Regions from separate parts of the Homo sapiens genome. Here region 1 is linked to region 2. Evidence: fine-mapped expression QTL. A gene starts in region 2. The other region holds a variant in brackets. All regions are shown on one strand. Distances are between the middles of the regions.

Region 1 (9,492 bases), 720 kb after region 2:
GTTATTCAAGCATTGTGATATTAAGAAGGTTCCTGGTGCTTTGATGAGCTTTGCATCCTAACTGAGCTCCTAAAAATTCTAAGATGAAAGTTACAGACATTATGTAATTTTTTTGTGTGTCATAGTCTTGGGGGTTGTTAATGAAGAAATAAGACTGTGTCATCTGTATGTGAAATTGATACAACTTACCTTTGCAGCATTCTCCCAGCAATCCTTATGAGCCCCATTGTGCCCCATGTGAGCACTTTTCCCAGACAGGCCTGATTCTCCCTATGAGTGCTCACAGCCTTCTCCTCTCCCCACATGCCACATTCCTTCCCTCTGCCACGCCATGCCCGTCTCTGTTCTTCAGAGCTACGTTAGATGCCACCCTCTCCAAGAATTCTTCCCAAGCATCTCCCAGTTGGAATATGTTCACCCACCACTGCACGCTGCACGTTGATGTCTTCACCTGCGATTTCTGTGGTCTGTCTGTGTAGTCTCTACCACTTGATGAGCTCCGGGGCCCAGGACCATATCTGAGTTCCGTTTACTTAATGGAAGCCTAAGTGTTCAAAATTCACCCACAAAACTAAAGTTGTCACCAAGGAGGTTTGCTTTTGCTTTTGTTTTTCTACCTACAATAGGCTTATGTAGACATGAGGAAGATTGGCAGTAGCCGGGGAATGGTTTCTGCATACCCTCGACAGCTAGAGTCATTAATCCGCTTAGCAGAAGCCCATGCTAAAGTAAGATTGTCTAACAAAGTTGAAGCCATTGATGTGGAAGAGGCCAAACGCCTCCATCGGGAAGCTCTGAAGCAGTCTGCAACTGATCCCCGGACTGGCATCGTGGACATATCTATTCTTACTACGGGTTCGTTATTTTCAGTGAACAGAAAAGCTTTTGAAAATTATTTCAATATGCATGTAGTTTATATGTCAGATTTAAGCTAACAGTTAAATCATTTGAAACAGAAGTTCTTAACCTTTTTTGGATTAGGACCCCTTTGAGAATCTGATGAAAGTTGCCCTTTAATCTTATCTTGATAAAAATATTGATTAACACACACAGTTTTGTGTATAGTTTTTTTTTGTTTTTTTTTTTTATACTTTAAGTTTTAGGGTACATGTGCACAACGTGCAGTTTAGTTACATATGTACGCATGTGCCATGTTGGTGTGCTGTACCCAGTAACTCGTCATTTAACATTACGTGTATCTCCAAATGCTATCCCTCCCCCCTCCCCCCACCCCACAACAGGCCCTGGTGTGTGATGTTCCCCTTCCTGTGTCCGTGTGTTCTCATTGTTCAATTCCAGTTTTGTGTATAGTTTTAAGGAGATTCTGTCTCCTTGACTGTCTGGGAAGTTTTGTTAACCCATTTTAGAGAAGTTGTTTGTTTCTTAGCAGCAGCTGCTTGCTGCACAGATGTGTAGACTGTTAAGGAAAGCAGCAGCTAGTGGCTTACAGAAATTTCCAAATAATTAAAAACTCATTCCCTTCAAATGTACTCAGCCCCTGTCGCCTTATCTTTCTAGGTGATACTACTAAAGGAATATTTTTGAGAATTTGAAGCATTTCATTTCATAATAGCAAAAATGTTTTCATTGATTTCTTTTTAAATCAGGGATGAGTGCCACCTCTCGTAAACGGAAAGAAGAATTAGCTGAAGCATTGAAAAAGCTTATTTTATCTAAGGGCAAAACACCAGCTCTAAAATACCAGCAACTTTTTGAAGATATTCGGGGACAATCTGACATAGTAAGTGTTTATATGTATTTTTTGTTTGATAGAGCTTTCTCTTTTTCCTTAATATTGCTTTTGGGTTTTTTTCCTTTATTTATTAAATAATAAATATAGAGAAGAATGAAGAAAAGGAAGATGAACCATAAGCCATCATCAAGAAATAATCACAATTAAAATTTTTGGCTGGGTGCAGTAGCTCACGCCTGTAATCTCATTTGGGACGCTGAGGTGGGCAGATCACTTGCAGCCAGGAGTTTGAAACCAGCCTGACCAATATGGTGAAACCCTGTCTCTATTAAAAATACAAAAATTAGCTGGATGTGGTGATAAGCACCTGAAATCCTAGCTACTCAGGAGGCTTAGGCAGGAGAATTGCTTGAACCTGGGAGGCGGAGGTTGCAGTAAGCTGAGATCCCACCATTGCTCTCCAGCCTGGGCACCAGAGCGGAACTCCATCTCAAAAAAAAAAAAAAAGAAAAAATTGTTATGCCCCTTTCATAGTTGTTATAAGTTTGCTTTAGGTATGAAATATTTGGGTGTCCTTTTGTAAATAAGTAAGGTAGTTGTTTAGTGAAAAGAACTATGCAGTCTTTCAGTGCTGGTCCACTTTCCATCGCTGTGTTGTGACTGAGAGGGCAGAGTTGATAGTTACAACGTGGACTATACAGATGCCAAGTCTACCACATGGACCATCTGGCTACTCCACTCCTGATTTAGAGCATAAGGCATGTGTACAGCCACCAAAAAGAGAAAGATTCTGGGTGGTACTTTAACATTATAATTATTGTGTTTCTAACAGGTAAAGGAGGGACTTGACGTGTACAATATTTATTTTCTTTCTCTTCCCCACAGGCAATTACTAAAGATATGTTTGAAGAAGCACTGCGTGCCCTGGCAGATGATGATTTCCTGACAGTGACTGGGAAGACCGTGCGCTTGCTCTGAAGCCTTGTGAGCAAGGAAGGCTCCCTGCATGTCCTGCTTGCTGCACGCCACATGGGTGTGGTCTGCATCTCAGTTGGCCGCCATCAGTGTAAATAGAGCTTAAAGTCATGGTTTGGCTGCATAAAAATTTTCTAACTTGGGTTCAATATTTGTAGTGAAGTATCTGTTTTCATTTTTTTCACGTTATAAATAAAAATACTATGCTGGCCGGGCGCGGTGGCTCACACCTGTAATCCCAGCACTTTGGGAGGCCAATGTGGGTGGATCATGAGGTCAGGAGTTCAAGACCAGCCTAGCCAAGATGGTGAAACCCCGTCTCTAGTAAAGATAACAAAAAATTAGCTGGGCTTGATGGCA[T/C]GCGCCTGTAATCCCAGCTACTCGGGAGGTTGAGGCAGGAGAATCGCTTAAACCCAGGCGGCAGAGGTTGCAGTGAGCCAAGATCGCGCCACTGCACTCCAGCCTCAGCAATAGAGTGAGACTGTCTCAAAAAAAAAAAAAAAAAAAAAACCTGCCAATTTTCAAACATACCGTAGAGATTATTTTCAGGTGCCATTTTATAGTATAGCAGCAGGGCTTTTACTCTGTGTATGCACAGATGCAGTCTGGGGCATGGTTTGTGTGCTGGACTTTCTCATGGCCATCATCAGTATGCTTATGGATTTGATGACAGGCATAGCCTGGGCATATCACCTCATTGGTAAAGGGCTAGAGCCTTTCTTTTTTATGGCACTTCTTTTTTTGAGATAGGGTCTTACTCTGTCACCCTGGCTAGAGTACACTGGTACAATCACGGCTCAATGTAGGCTTAACCTCCTGGGCTCAGGTGTATGTCACTATGCCCGGCTACTTTTTGTATTTTTTGGTAGAGACGGCTTCGCCACGTTGCCCAGGCTGCAAGCGATATGCCTAGGCTCAAGCGATCTGCCCACCTCAACTTCCGGAAGTGCTGAGATTACAGGTGTGAGCCACTGCACCCAGCCTTTGTTTTATTTTTTATTTTTTGAGAGGTATGATTCTTTCTAGAGATTTTTTCTCATGGCTACTATTAGATCAGGAATGGGTGATTGGAGATTATTAGATTCTAGGTTAACTTCTACCACTTTACCCTAATACATAAAACTTTTTCCTAAATAAATGATGGAAGGAATAATACTTGGTTACCTGGCATTATTTTTCAGTAAGAAAAAAGCTTTACTAACCACTACATTTATGGAAATTTGTAGGGGTAAGTATTTTATAGGTCATAAAAAACACCATAATATAACGAATCTCATTTTCTTTAAATGTGAATTAAATCCTAACAGTCATCTTTATAAAATGACCATAGGCTAAAATCTTACGTGTAAGTACTACTACAATAAATAATTTCTGAAACCTTTAAATCATATGAGTTGGGCCTTTTTTATAACTTGGAATCAACATTTTTTAATAAAGTATCCATAGAAAATGATAGATCTGGCCGGGCGCGGTGGCTCACACCTGTAATCCCAGCACTTTGGGAGGCCGAGATGGCTGGATCATGAGGTCAGGAGATCGAGACCATCCTGGCTAACACTGTGAAACCCCGTCTCTACTAAAAATACAAAAAAAATTAGCCGGGCCTGGTGGCGGGCACCTGTAGTCCCAGCTACTCTGGAGGCTGAGGCAGGAGAATGACATGAACCTAGGAGGCGGAGCTTGCAGTGAGCCGAGATCATGCCACTGCACTCCAGGCTGGGCAACAGAGTGAGACTCCATCTCAAAAAAAGAAAAAAAAAAAGATCTAATTGAATATTTAAATAGCATTAAAATGTTAGCAGTAGAATGCTGTATTAAATATCCTAAGTCGAAAATGTTTTTAATACACCTAATCTACCAAACATACCTTAGCCTAGCCTACCTTAAAAAGGCTGAGCATACTTAAATCAGCCTATGGTTGAGTAAAATAGTGCAAAACAAAGCCTATTTTACAATAAAGTGTTACGGTTGGGTGCAGTGGCTCACGCCTGTAATCCCAACACTTTGGGAGGCCAAGGCAGGTGGATCCTGAAGTGAGGAGTTCAAGACCAGTCTGGCCAACATGGCCAAACCCTGTCTCTACTAAAAATAAAAAAAAAATTAGCTCAGTGTGGTGGTGAGTGCCTATAATCTCAGCTACTCAGGAGGCTGAGGCAGGAGAATTGCTTGAACCCCGGAGGTGGAGGTTACAGTGAGCGGAAATCATGCCACTGCACTCCAGCCTGGCGATGGTGTGATACTGTCTCAAATAAAGTGTTAAATGTCTTGTGTACCACATTGGTAACACAAGAAAAGGTCAGTCAAAATTCAAAATTTGAAGAACATTGAAATTGTAACAGCTTTATACCATGTAAAGTTGAAAAATCATAAGTCGAACAATAATTAAATAATCTGTACTTATTGACTAAGATGATTTCCCCCTGAAGTTTATGTACTAGTAATATTTTTCTAAACCTAGTATTTGAATACCAAGTTGAAGGTATATTCAACTGTAGATGAAGTGTGTGTATAGTTTCATTTTAAGGGGATTTTAGTAGAATGAAAATAATGGGGTTGTCCTGTTGCTGTCAGGTTCCATCATAGTGAATCTCAGTTTAATTCAGTAAACTTTGTTTTCTCCAGAGTCTAAAATAATTCAGTGCTTGCTTCAGCCACACATATGTGAGAATTGGAATGATACACAAAAGATTATCATGGCCCCTGCACAAAGTTTGACACACAAATCCATGAAGCATTCTATACTTTCAATAAAAACTAAAATTTGGCCAGGCACAATGGCTCACGCCTATAATCCCAACACTTTGGGATGCCGAGGCAGGCGGATCAAGAGGTCAGGAGTTCGAGACCAGCCTGACCAACATGGTGAGACTCCATCTCTACTAAAAATACAGAAATTAGCTGGGCATGGTGGCAGGTGCCTGTAATCCCAGCTACTCAGGAGGCTGAATCACTTGAACCCAGGAGGCGGAGGTTGCAGTGAGACGAGATCATGCCCTTGCACTCGCCTGGGTGACAGAGTGAGACTCCATCTCAAAAGAAAAAAAAAATTGTAGTTATTTAGCAAACTTGTTTATGTCTGTAACCTGCCTACTGGTCATAAGTTTCTTGAGAGAAGGAATGGTCGTATCCTTCAGTGCAGTACCTGGTGCTTGGCGCTAGATGCTTGTTACATGTTAGTAGAGATAACTCCTATGAAAGGAGGGTGAAGGTGTAAAAGTCAGAAGGCATTCTTGAAAACAGCGAAGTATTAGGCTGTAGAGTGGAGGAATAAGAGGAATTACAGTCCTGCCCCATAAATTCTTATAAGTATTCCCTTAGAGGGTATGCCTCATAATCTCATGGAACCCAGGAGATATCTAGTATTGCTAATTAAAACGACTTGCTTTATTTGATTGGAGAATGCATGTGCCATTCTCCTTCAGCATCCATCATAGATAAAACCAACTCCATCTAAAGGAGTACACAACTAATAAGAGGAATGAGGAAACCCAGAATTTAATGACTCAGCACATCAGTTAGGAAATACTTTTAAAAACTGCTGTTGCTTACTAAATCTAAGAAACTCTTAAAATTCTTCTGTAATTCAGTTTTTTAAACTATTATTTTGAACTAATTTCATGACCAGGCACTGTGGCTCACACCTGTAATCCCAGCACTTTGGGAGGCTGAGGCGGATGGATCACCCGAGGTCAGGAGTTCAAGACCAGCCTGGCTGACATAGTGAAACCCCGTCTCTACTAAAAATACAAAAAAAAAATTAGCCGGGCATGGTAGTGCGTGCCTGTAGTCCCAGCTATTCAGGAGGCTGAGGCAGTAGAATCGCTTGAACCCGGGAGGCAGAGGTTGTGGTGAGCCAAGATCATACCACTGCATCCCAGCCTGGGCAACAGAGCAAGACTCCCATCTCAAAAAAAAAAAAAAATAGAAATAATTTCAAACTTACACAAAAGTTGCAAGAACAGTATAGTTTCCATATACCCTTCACTCTGACATTCCTTTAATGATATTATTTTATCAAGTTTGCTTTTTTGTTTTGTTTTGTTTTGTTTTGTTTTGTTTTTTTGAAACAGAGCCTGTCTCTGTCACCCAGGCTGCAGTGCAGTGGTGCGATCTCAGCTCACTGCAACCCCCACCTCCCGGGTTCAAGCGATTCTCCTGCCTCAGCCTCCCTAGTAGCTGGGATTACAGGCGCCCACCACCAGGCCTAGCTAATTTTTTTTATTTTTAGTAGAGACGGGGTTGCACCATGTTGGCCAGGCTGGTCTTGAACTCCTGGACTCAGATGATCCGCCCACCTCGGCCTCCCAAAGTGCTGGGATTATAGGTGTGAGCCATCGTGCCCGGCCTTTTTTTTTTTTTTTTTTTTTTAAAGACAGAGGGTATCCCTCTGTCACCCAGGCTGGAGTGCAGTGGTGTGATCGTAGCTCACTGCAGCCTCAAACTCCTGGGGTCAAGTGATCCTCCTACCTCAGCCTCCTGAATAGCTGGGACTACAGGCACACACCATGATGCCTAGCTAATTTTTAGAGATGGGGTCTTGCTACCTTGCCCAGGCTTTTTTCAAACTCCTGGCCTCAGCAATCATCCTGCGTCTGCCTCCCAAAATACTAAGATTACAAGTATGTGCCCCTGCACCCAGCCTTTAATGGATGCTTTTTTTTTTTTTTTTTTTTTTTTTTTCCTGTCGCCCAGGCTGAACAGAACCAATCTTGGCTCACTGCAACCTCCACCTCATGGGTTCAAGTGGTTCTCCTGTCTCAGTCTCCTGAGTAGCTGGGATTACAAACGTGTGCCACCATGCCTGGCTAATTTTTTTTTTTTTTTGTAATCATGCCTGGGATTACAGGCATGAACAACTGTTCCTGGCCTCGTTTTAGTAATTTCTATCTCTTTGTTGATATTCTCATTTTTGTTCATATGTTCCCTCGATTTCCTTTTTTTTTTTTTTGTAGTTGTTGTTGTTGTTGTTGTTGTTGTTTTTGAGACAGTCTCACTCTGTTACCCAGACTGGAGTGCAATGGTGTGGTCTCAGCTCACTGCAGCCTCCAACTCCCAGGTTCAAGCAATTCTTCTGCCTCAGCCTCCCGAGTAGCTGGTACAACAGGCGTGTGCCACCACACCTGGCTGATTTTTGTATTTTTAGTAGCGACAGGGTTTCACCATGTTGGCCAGGCTGGTCTCGAACTCCAGGTGATCTGCCCACCTCGGCCTCCCCAAGTGCTGGGATTACAGGTGTGAGCCACCGTGCCCAGCCCCTGCATTCAATATATTTTATAGCCGGGCTTGGTGGCTTACACCTGTAATCCCAGCTATTCAGGGATTAAATATAAATATATAAATAAATAAATACATATATATATATATTTTTTTTTTAAACTTGTCTTGCTTCCATGAACACCTTACGAAGGTTTTCTTATGGTCTGGTGCTGCCTTGTCTGCTCAAATAAACTTTAAAATTTGAATATATATGCCTAAGTTTATCTCATAGTAGCCCTGTCAGAAGTGAGGATCTGAAGGAGGGCACTGAGGGTGGCACCTGCAGCAATGAGCCACCTGTAGGGGCACTGGTGAAGCCATTGTGCTTGTTTTTCTACCTGCATCGATAAGCCCCCTTGATAGATACAAGTTTTCACAACTTGTGGCAACTTAGGAGTTTATTTGAGCATTTTTCATTCAGACTAGGGCCAGACATCAGATTGGATTCAACCTGGGTTCTGCGGGAAGTCTCAGGTAGGTAATGTTTCAAGAAGTCAGAAAATAATAGGTTCATCTGAATCCAAGGAGTCTGGGACTCCTGCTCAGAACCTGTGCATTTCTAGAGATATGGGTACATATGGTAAAAAAATAATGCCTAGTTGCGGTGGCTCACACCTGTAATCCCAGCACTTTGGGAGGCCGAGGCAGGTAGACCACCTCTGGTCAGGAGTTCGAGACCAGCCTGACCAAAATGTTGAAACTCCATCTCTACTAAAAATACAAAATTAGCTGGGCATGGTGGTACATGCCTGTAATCTCAGCTACTCAGGAGGCTGAGGCAGGAGAATCGCTTGAACCTGGGAGGCGAGGTTGCAGTGAGCCAAGATCGTGCTGTTGCACTCCAGCCTGGGCAACAAGAGTGATATGCAGTCTCAAAAAAAAAAAAAATTAGAATTATGGTGGCCCCAGTTGGAAAGTTTGTGGGTTTAGGGGAGGTGTTTTGTTTTGTTTTGTTTGAGATAGGATCTTAACCTATCTCACCCAGACTGGAGTGCAGTGGTGCAATCACAGCTCACTGCAGCCTTGACCTCCAGGACCCAATTGATCCTCCCACCTCAGTCTCCCGGCTAGCTGGCTGGGACTACAGGCGTGTGCCACTGTGCCAAGCTAATTTTTTTTTTTTTTGAGACAGAGTCTCACTCTGTTGCCCAGGCTGGAGTGCGGTGGCATGATCTCAGCTCACTGCAACCTCCACATCCCGGGTTCAAGCTGTTCTCCTGCCTCAGCCTCCCGAGTAGCTGGGATTACAGGCATGCGCCACCACGCCAGGCTAATTTTTTATATCTTTAGTAGAGATGGGGTTTCACCATGTTGGCCAGGCTGGTCTCGAACTCCTGACCTCAGGTGATACACCACCTCAGCTTCCCAGAGTGCTGGGATTAGAGATGTGAGCCACCGAGCCCAGCCAACACCCCATCTTTAAAAAAATATTGGCCAGGCGCAGTGGCTCACGCCTATAATCCCAGCACTTTGGGAGACCAAGGTGGGCAGATGACAAGGTCAGGAGATCGAGACCATCCTGGCTAACATGGTGAAACCCTGTCTCTACTAAAAATACAAAAAATTAG
Region 2 (9,642 bases):
TTTTTGTATTTTTAGTGGGGACAGGGTTTCACTATGTTGGCCAGGCTGGTCTTGAACTCCTGACCTCGTGATCTGCCCACCTTGGCCTCCCAAAGTGCTGGGATTACAGGTGTGAGCGACTGTGCTTGGCCTAAATTTCTATTCTTTTTAAGCTATGCAGTTATGGGTTGTTAGTTGATGGGTTGTTATAGTAACCCAAATTGACTAAGAAAACCAACTAAGGCCTAAGGCCTAACATAGGCCTGGCACATAGTAAACTTCAATATTTGTTTGTTGAATGAATGAATGCACATTCCTTGAATAATCTGCATTTGACTCTATTTTCCACTCCTACTTTTTATATATATATATATAAACCATTTGTATACTTTTGAGAACCTAGATCCATGGTTCTCAAAGTGTGATCAGGAAAAAGAGATAAAGTGAGATTCACCAAAGTTGAAAACCTCTGTGCTTTGGGCTTTACCACTTATTGGGTTTGTGGCTTTTTGCAAGTTATATAACATGTCTGTGGTGCAATTATCTCATATGTAATCATAATTGTACTTCACACAATTGTCATAGAGATTTTCTGAGATAAATGATAATAATAATTGCTAACACTTCCTGGGCACTTACTATGTATCTGCTGTGTTCTAACCCATCAGGTGAGGCACTATTTTCATTTCATATAAAGGGATTAACATTGCCTGCACATATAAATGTCATATTATTATTATTAACATTATTGTAGTCAATGATTAAAGAAAAGGCTGACAAGGCCTTTTCTTCCCACCCTGAGTGCACGGATCTCCTAGTCGGATGTTTTGTGGGAGACCACTGTGCAACAGCCTGTTACTCCGTGCAATTGCATCCAGTCCAGTGCTTCTCACAGGTGAGCATGCATCAGAGTCAGTTGAAGGGCTTGTCAAAACAGATTGCCAGGCCTTGTCCACCAGGTTTCTGATTCAATTGGTCTAGTATGGAGTCCAAGAATTTGCATTTCTGACAATTTCTCAGATGCTGCTGATGCTACCAGCCCCTCACCAAACATTTTTAAAATAATTATTTTATTGAAATATAATTCAAATACCATAAAATCACCCTTTAAAGTGTACCATTCAGTGATTTGTTACAATATTCACAGTTGTACAACCATCATCACTCTAGAACAAAGTACACATTTTTCTTAATTTTTCAATCTGTTTTAAAAATAGGTATACAAAACAACATAAAAAAGTAGAGATGGAGAAGTCCTCCTCCCCTCATCCCAATCACTTGGTTCCTCCCCTCCACCAGGTAACCCCTTTTATTTCCTATACATCTATTTCGATGTAGCATTTCTTCAAGCAGATATAAGCAATATATGGTCTTTTCCTGTTTTCTTGCACTAGAGAGGCAGCACACTATGAATCATATTCTGTCAATTGTTTTTTTCATTTAGTAAAGCTGGAGATCATTATGAAGGTATTACCATGGCACATTTAACAGTCTCCTTACTCTCCAAGTAAACAAATATATCAATTTTTTCTAGTCTTTTGCTATTGCAAACTATGCTGCAAAAAATACCCTTACATACATATCATTTCACATGTGTTATCATTTCATATGTGTATCCTCTAAAATTCAGGTGTTGCCAAATAGGCCATGAAGGCTCCTCCATCACTAATAGGATTAAGGCCCTTATAAGAGGCTTCACGCAGCATTCAGCTAGCTTGCTTTCTTGCCCTTCTGCCTTCTGCCATGTGAAGATGCAGCAGGAAGGCCCACACCAGACACCAAATGCCAGCTCCTTGATCTCAGATTTCTCAGAGTGAGAAAGTAAGTATCTGTTCTTTGTAAACTACCCAGTCTCAGATATTCTGTTATAGCAGCACAAAACAGACTAAGACAATATGTGTGCAGGTGTATGTGTAGGATTAGTTTCCAGAAGTAGGACTGCTAGCTTAAAGAGTAAATACACTTATAATTTTGAAGCATATTTGATAGGAGTTGCATAATTTTGTACTTTTGTTAGCAATACATTAGAGGGCCCTTACCCCAATATGTGTTGTCCAGGACTTAGATTTTAGCCAATATGGTAGGTGTGCAGTTTAAATTTGCATTTCTCTTGTCATGAGTGAGACAGTACATTTTTCATATGTATAAAAGCCATTTGTGTTCCTTTCTCTGTGAACTGCCCTTGTCCTTTGCCCATTTTCTACTGGGTTTCCCCCAAGGAATACTCTTGCTTACTCCTCCAAGAGTAATTTATACTTTAGGGGGCTGTTTCTATATAACATCAATATGAACTATTCTTTAATTTTGCCATTTGTCTTTGCCTACTGTGTTTTTTTTGCCATGCATAAATTAGGGTTTTTATGTAGTTGAATCGATCAATCTTTCCTATTACGACTAGGACATTTTGAGTCATAGTTGGAAAGACTTTCTCCCCTTTCCCCCACTCTAAGATTATAAAGGAATCTGGTCATGTTTTATTCTAATACCTTGACATTTTTTCACGTTTAAATCTTGGATTCATTTATAGCCTAGAGCACTGTCATCTACCAGACTAAAAAAGAATATGGATGAGTAGATTCTAAACATTTCTCCCCATATTAGATCTTTCTTTAAATACAATCTTGCCCCATATATAAGACAGATGGAAGAGAGCTGCCCTGAAGGTGCAGCAGAGACCCTCCTGTGAGTCACACCCTCCCCAGACTCCATGGATCTCCATGGAATCCTTAGGATGGCTGTAAGCAGAGTGAAGACCACAGATATCTGCAGAACAGCAACTAGGCCAAAAAGTTTGATGAGAAAAAAGTTAAAAGAAGGACTTTCTGGTTTGTCTTGATGTTTGCCATTGAGTGTTTGCTGAGGAGGAAATGAGGCAAGACTGGAGAGGACTTAAGAGACCCTTTCTGCAGGGGCTCATCTTTATTATCAACAGTTCCCTTTTGCTGAGTTCATATGTTCAAGTGAAAAATTCCTCATGATTCTACTATGATCTGATTGGTGTAGTGGAGAATGCATCGACCTTGGTATCACATATGAGTTCTAATCCTGAACAGTTACTAGCTGTGCAGCCTCTGGCAAGTCATTTCTGTTTCACAATTAGCAGTTCATCCATAGTAAATAACTGAGTACTTTGTATATGGAAGACGCTGTGCTAACTGATAGAGATACAAAAACGGAGAAGATAGAAATGGTATTACCTTACAGCATGGAGGTGGAACCACATGGTAAACAAATAACTTTCGTAATTATTTAGATTCTAATTGTTATAACATCTTCAACAGAGCATGAGGTCCTGCGGACATGGAAGAGCAGGGAGGTTCAGGCTTGCTAGTTTAGGGAAGCTGGCCACCAGGTTCAGGTTTGACAGGCGCATAGGAAATGGCATGGCAGAGGGAGGCCAGAGCCTTTTAGGCAAAAGGAAGAGCAAATGCTTATTAGACCCCAAGGCTGCAGGAGCTAGGCACGTTTGACCACCGAAAGGGAAGGCCAGTATAGACAGCATAAACCTCACTGTGGTGTCTGTGTTGAGAATGGATTGTATGTGTGTGCTGTGTGAGGGGCAAGAGTGGATTAGGGGACATGGGTTAAGAGCTACTAGCAGTCTGGGCAAAAGATACTAGTGGCCTGGGAAACAGTGGTAGTGGAGAGTGGACACATTAGTAAGACACACAAACGTGTTCACAAAAATTCCTAGGTTTCTGCGTGAGCTGTGGCCAGGTGGATGTCCATGCCACTACTGAGATGGCGAATTCTGAACAGGAGGAAGTTTGGAGAAAAACCCCAACATTTCGGCAGGACAGCACCTCCTGGTGGAGATGACAAGCGGGAGCCTCACCACAGGCCTGGTTGTGGGAGTGAAAGGGGGACTCCGGGCGCGGTCGGGTGCACTTACTGTGCTAAGACAGCAAGGCCCGGCGGAGGTGGCAATGGCAGACCTGGTTTCTCGGCGGAGTCCCAGTGGGAGGCCCGGTGTCCAAAATCCTCAACTAGATTGGGCATGCCGTTTATCTTGTTCCAACTGTTGACAGTAATGGCACTAGCAATAATGTCCTTCCCAGGCAAAGATGGTTTTTCTTCCGTGTTTTCAGCCACTGCAGAGTGGACATCTACTATGAACCAAGTATCTGCGGCTTTAGGTACCAGATTCAAACACAGAATGGTGGCAGAACAGGGACTAGGACGGAGAGAAAACCTGAAGATGGATCAACCAGGAAGCAATGCATTCTCACAGAGGCACAAAAAAATGCCTCTGAAACAGAAGATTCACCTCCACTTCTGCGTCCTTTTGAGGCAACTTTCTGAGCATCCTTTCCTCCTCCCCAGGCCAACGCTTTTCCACCTTGTTAAACTACCCGGTAGCTTTCTCCATGGGAGGCGCCTTCTTCACAGTACTCGGACCCAGTTACACTTGTGGCCTTCCCCGGCTTCTGCTGGGCCGGCTATGGTCGACGCCGCACCGTCTCAGGCCCACTTCTCCTGCGGGAGCGGCGGCCCCAGCGGAGCCCCTGTGCGCCACGGCGAACGTGATAGGAATGCAATCTTCCGCCCCTTCAGACTCTGGCACCCCGTAGCCTTTCCTCAGGCTCCACGAGTTCTCCCGGTGATGTGATGACCGACATGGCGTCTGGGCTCTGAACACAGACTTTACTCCTTCCCCCCGGCCCCGAAACATGGGGAAACCACACCCTCTCTGCTCCAGTCACCAGCAGCCACTCCCATTCCTTAAGTATCCATTATTGCATGTGTAGCCTATTGCATGTGTAGCCTACTTCTGGTTTTCATTTTTATTTAAGGTCAGTTGTTGCCTGACAACACAGACGACAGTAACTTAATTCGAAAGACAATACTTGGAGGCGGCCCCCGCTCCAGGCACCAGCCCAGCAGCTCCCCCGAACTCCCCAGGAGCTCGCGGGCGAGCAACGCCACAGCCCAGAGCGAGCTCCGCGGAACCCCCAGCCCCGGGGAAGGAAGCTCGACTCTCCGCGGGGCACTCCTTCCGGGCTCCGGGCCCGACTAGGCCATCCGGGAGGCCCTGGAGCGCCGGGGCCGGAGAAGCCCTGCCCCCCGCCGAAGCCCCGCCCTGCGCCCGAGCGCCCGCCAATGGCAGGGCGCGGTGCGGCGCGCCGAGGTGGGACGGCGGCGCGCTGAGGAGGCGGTGCGCTCAGGCGGCGCTCCCGGAGATGCCCCGCGGCAGCCGCGCTCGGGGCTCTAAGGTAGGCTCTGGGGCGGGAGTGGGCGCCGCGCCGTTTCCCGCGTTGCGGGGAAGCGGCGGGCCGGCGCGGGGCTGGCCCCGTTGTGCTGGGGTGAGAGAGGGTGGGCGTTGGGGGTGAAGGGCTAGGTGGTGGCGGGTCCCGTCTGCGCGCGTGGAGCAAGCCCGCGCAGTGGGGTACCGCCCCCAGGTCCGGCTCCGGTCCAGGCGTGCGGGCCGGGCCCTCAGCGGCGGTACGGAAAGCGAGGGGTGGGACCGCCGAGGGACGCAGCGGGCGGGAGCATATGTCCGCCTCGGGGGTACTTGGCCTTACTCTTGTCTCTTTTTGATTCTGGTGTAATGTACCAAACCGCAGGGAATCCTGGCGTGGTTTTACCCGTCTCCGCGGATAATCCACTGTCAACTCTGTCTCTCTTCCTGCCGCACTCGGAGGGGACTGTGCGGCTGACTGCCCAATCCGTGGGCACCGCGCTGCCTCGGGTTCCAGAACGGGAGCGGGTGCCTAGGAATCGTTGCTTGAATGGTGTTTGATTGCACCTGTATCCGCGAGTGCATCCTTTTTTGTTCTGCTAATTGTGCTTGTCATGGCATGTGTCCTTTATCGTTTTAAAGTTTCTTCTAACTTCCTTGCTTTCAAATACGTTTGTCTCATAGTAAAACGGTTTTTAAAAAGCAAACACAGGACCTCCTTTCTTGACTCTTGCCTTTACTTGAAAACTTCCTGGAAAAAATAGACCACATATACTGGTTCAACTTCTTTACCACTACCATGCTTTCTCGCTTCTCAAATACCATTGATTATCAGCCCACACTATCAGTTTTGTGACTGGCTTTAGGGAATAAAGAAATTCATTTCAGGCACCTCTTGATTATAAGATACAGTCTGATTTCTGAAGCATTAATGTGTGAAAAAAATCAAGGAAATATATAAATTTGCTAAATCCAGTGTAAGTTGTTTACTTGATCATTGGAGCGTTTGACACATTCACCACCTGCTTTTATTTCTTTTGGAACATCCATGATTGTTTTCCTGTCTTGCAACAGCTCATTTTCTTCTCTTTACTGTGTTCGTGCCATGTTCTAATTTTTGACCTTGTGCTTTTTCACATGTTCCATATTTGCTTTGGACAATGTCATACATTGAAGTTAACTATATAGATGACTTTCAGATCTATATTAGATCTTTCCCTAGAGCTCAAACTTAGTGCATCACATAATCATCATCTCACCCTTAGTCCTCCAGGCCCTAACAGTTTCTCTTGACTTAGAAATCTTAGTATTTTTGAATTGACGTTCACTTCTGGTCTCTTCATCTTGTCATTTTTCAAGACTCTTTTTTTTTACTCAATTTTTTTTAGTAGTCGTACAGTTGTCTATTGTGTAATACGTTGCTGAAAACTGAAGCAGTTCATAACAAATGTTTATTATATCATAGAGTTTCTGAGACTCAGGAATCTGAGAACGGCTCAACTAAGTGGTTGTAGTTCAGGATCTCCCACAAGGCTGCAGTCAAATAAAGGGTCGTTGGAGCTGGAGAATCCAGTTCCAAGCTCACTCACGTGGTTGTTTCTTGACAGCTGCATAGGGCAGCTCACAACAGGGTCCTGGCTTTCCCAAGAGCAAGAGAGAGAGCAACAAGATATCGGTCCCCGTGTCTTTTATAGCCTAAACTCAGAAGTGACATCCCATCTCCTGTCTATTCATTACATGGACCAACCCGGTACAATGTATGAGGAGACTATAGAGGGTCCCCAGGAGGTGGGGATCACAGGGGCCACCTTGGAGGCTGGCTTCCACAGTATTTCCCAGGAATTTATTTTTTGTTTCTGTCTCCCTCGGTCAGTCTCAAAAGTACTTAATGGTTGGAGTGTTGATGTGTAGTGCCGGCTAGCATGCTCCCATTCCATCTTCAGAGGTGACTTTCCCTTAGGCACTACTTTGATTATATTGTTAGTCCTCTATCTAAATCTCATTTTACTTCTTATTGGCTACATCATAATTTACTGCAGAACTTATCCTGTGTTTAGTGCTTTATATGTATTAACTAATTTAATTATTTTAACAGTCCTGTGAGGTAGATACCATTAGTCTCATTTTATGGATGAGGAAACTGAGGCTCAGCAGAGAGGCTAAGTAATTTGCCTAAGGTCACACAGCAGTTAAGGGAAGAAGCTAGGATTTGTATCCAGGTAGTCTGCCCCAGACCTTGCTTTTGTTCAGGCTCTCAGCCTGTTATTCACAGCCTCCATAATATCTGTGTCTTATTCCTTTACAGCTTTGCTCATTATTTATCTTATAGGTAAACTAGACTACTGCGTCACTGTACTTGCTTGCCCCTTGGTGGTAATTGCGTATGTTCTTGGTTTGGAATAATGCCAGTTCTCCCATTTCTGCTGATTGAAACCTTTTTTTTTTGAGACGCAGTCTCGCTCTGTCGCCCAGGCTGGAGTGCAGTGGCGCGATCTCGGTACAGGCGCCAGCCTCCACACCGGGCTAATTTTTTTTAAATTTTTATTAGAGACAGGGTTTCACCGTGTTAGCCAGGATGGTCTCGATCTCCTGACGTCGTGATCCGCCCGCCTCGGCCTCCCAAAGTGCTGGGATTACAGGCGTGAGCCACTGCGCCCGGCCATGAAATCTTAATCATCCATTGAGGCCTACTTCAAATCCCACCTTCTCCCAAATTATCCCAGCTATAAATGAACTTTCTTCTGTATGTTCTTGGTTTGGAATAATGCCAGTTCTCCCATTTCTGCTGATTGGAATCTTAGTCATCCATTGAGGCCCACCCCAAATTTCACCTCCCAAATTATCCCAGCTGTAAATGAACTTTCTTCTGTAGTCTGTGGAATTTTATGTAAATAACTCTTACTATTCCATGTCTTACATTAGGTTTATTTGTGTCTACACCTTTATTCCCTTATATTCTAGACATTTAAGATTAGGGACTATTTCTTCAGCCCATATTCCCCAGAATACCTGTCATATCCCTTGTATGTACTAGATATCTGATGAATTAATGAAAGGAGAACTAGTTTAGAAGATTTGCAAGTATTCCAGGTGTGAAGAAACAGGAGGAAATACCCTAGTCCGAAGACTCGGATATCTGCCTCAGCAGTACAGCTGAATGATTTTGCAGTTTTGGACAAGCCACACAGATATATCACGACTCTTAAGATGAAAGGTGGTGTGGTTATGGACTAAGGTGGTGGAATTAGGAATAGAATAGAAAGGACTGGGTTGACAGACTACAAATGGAAGGTGAGATTTAGGCAACTGCAATTGAAAGAGGAAGAGGAGGAAACCCATGGTGATTCAGAAAGTCGAACCTATGAGAAGTGAGAAAGTTGTTTGCCTCTTAACTGATGTTAGGATATATAGATATATCCTATATATCACATATATAGATATGTGGTATTTAAGTCCCAGGGAGATTAGGGCAGTCAGTTGCTCAAAGGCTGGGGTATCTTAGTTCTTTCCTCACTCCCCTCTCCTCCATGAGTTTCTCCTGCCCTAGCCCCTCACTATCCCTTAACATGCTGTGATTCTTCCCTTTGTGCCTTGTGTTCTCCCTTTCCTTATGAAGTAGCCAAGGACGACCACATATACTCCTGTTCTTGGGCAGCAGCTTGCCTTTTGAGATTTTCTTTTTTTTTTTTTGAGATGGAGTCTTGCTCAGCCACCCAGGCTGGAGTGCAGTGGCCCGATCTCGGCTCACTGCAACCACTGTCTCCTGGGTTCAAGTTCTCTGAATAGGGCAATATACCTAACATTGAGTTGTCGTTTCTTTATAAAATGGGGTTAATACCTATATTGCTGGGTTGATGTGAGGATTAAATTATGAGAATGCATGCGATGATATACCGAGCATATAAACACTCAATAAATGTTGGTGATAATGAAAGCAATTAATAATGAAACACCATGATAATTAAAGAAATCATATGAGGACAAAGATATTGTACATCCTCTACTGCTTTGTCTCTAGATTTCCCTGGAATTGCTGTCTTTCAGCTTCTTGAACAAGAAATAGGAAAAAGGCTCATTTTCAAGTTTTTCAGTGATGGCAGGAAATTCTCATAGTTATCTTGGTAGGAGTACCTCATGGTTCCAGTTTAAGGCCTTGATAGTCTCATTGAATGATTTACTGGTGGCTCTACATCTCAGAATTAGACTACTTAGTATTGACATCTCAGTTGTCTTTTTTTTTTTTTTTTTTTTTGAGACAGTCTTACTCTGTCGCCCAGGCTGGGGTGCAGGGGTGCTATCATGGCTCACTGCAGTCTTGAGCTCCTGGGCTCAAGTGATCCTCCCATTTCGGCCTCCTGAGTAGCTGGGACCACAGGCCATGCCACTGTGCCTGGCTAATATTTAAATTTATTTTGTAGAGATAGAGTCTTGCTGTGTTGCCGAGGCTGGTCTCGAATTCCTGACCTCAAGCCGTTCTTTCTCCT

The links.
Region 1: its variant is fine-mapped to the expression of SPIDR in lung (TOPMed, PIP 0.95).

Annotation. Positions count from the first base shown.
Region 1 is chr8:47,974,108-47,983,599 of GRCh38, forward strand. MCM4 (minichromosome maintenance complex component 4) reads left to right here. Exons shown (of 17, transcript NM_182746.3): 15 at 627-855; 16 at 1,608-1,741; 17 at 2,579-4,053. The coding sequence ends at 2,671. It also overlaps the pseudogene RNU6-519P. Among named protein-coding and RNA genes, the nearest start is that of MCM4, 18 kb to the left of the region's middle. RefSeq lists a silencer at 1-17. The variant T/C (reference allele first, on the strand shown) is at 3,029.
Region 2 is chr8:47,255,800-47,265,441 of GRCh38, forward strand. SPIDR (scaffold protein involved in DNA repair) reads left to right here and starts at 5,139. Exons shown (of 20, transcript NM_001080394.4): 1 at 5,139-5,192. The coding sequence starts at 5,160. RefSeq lists a silencer at 4,853-5,402.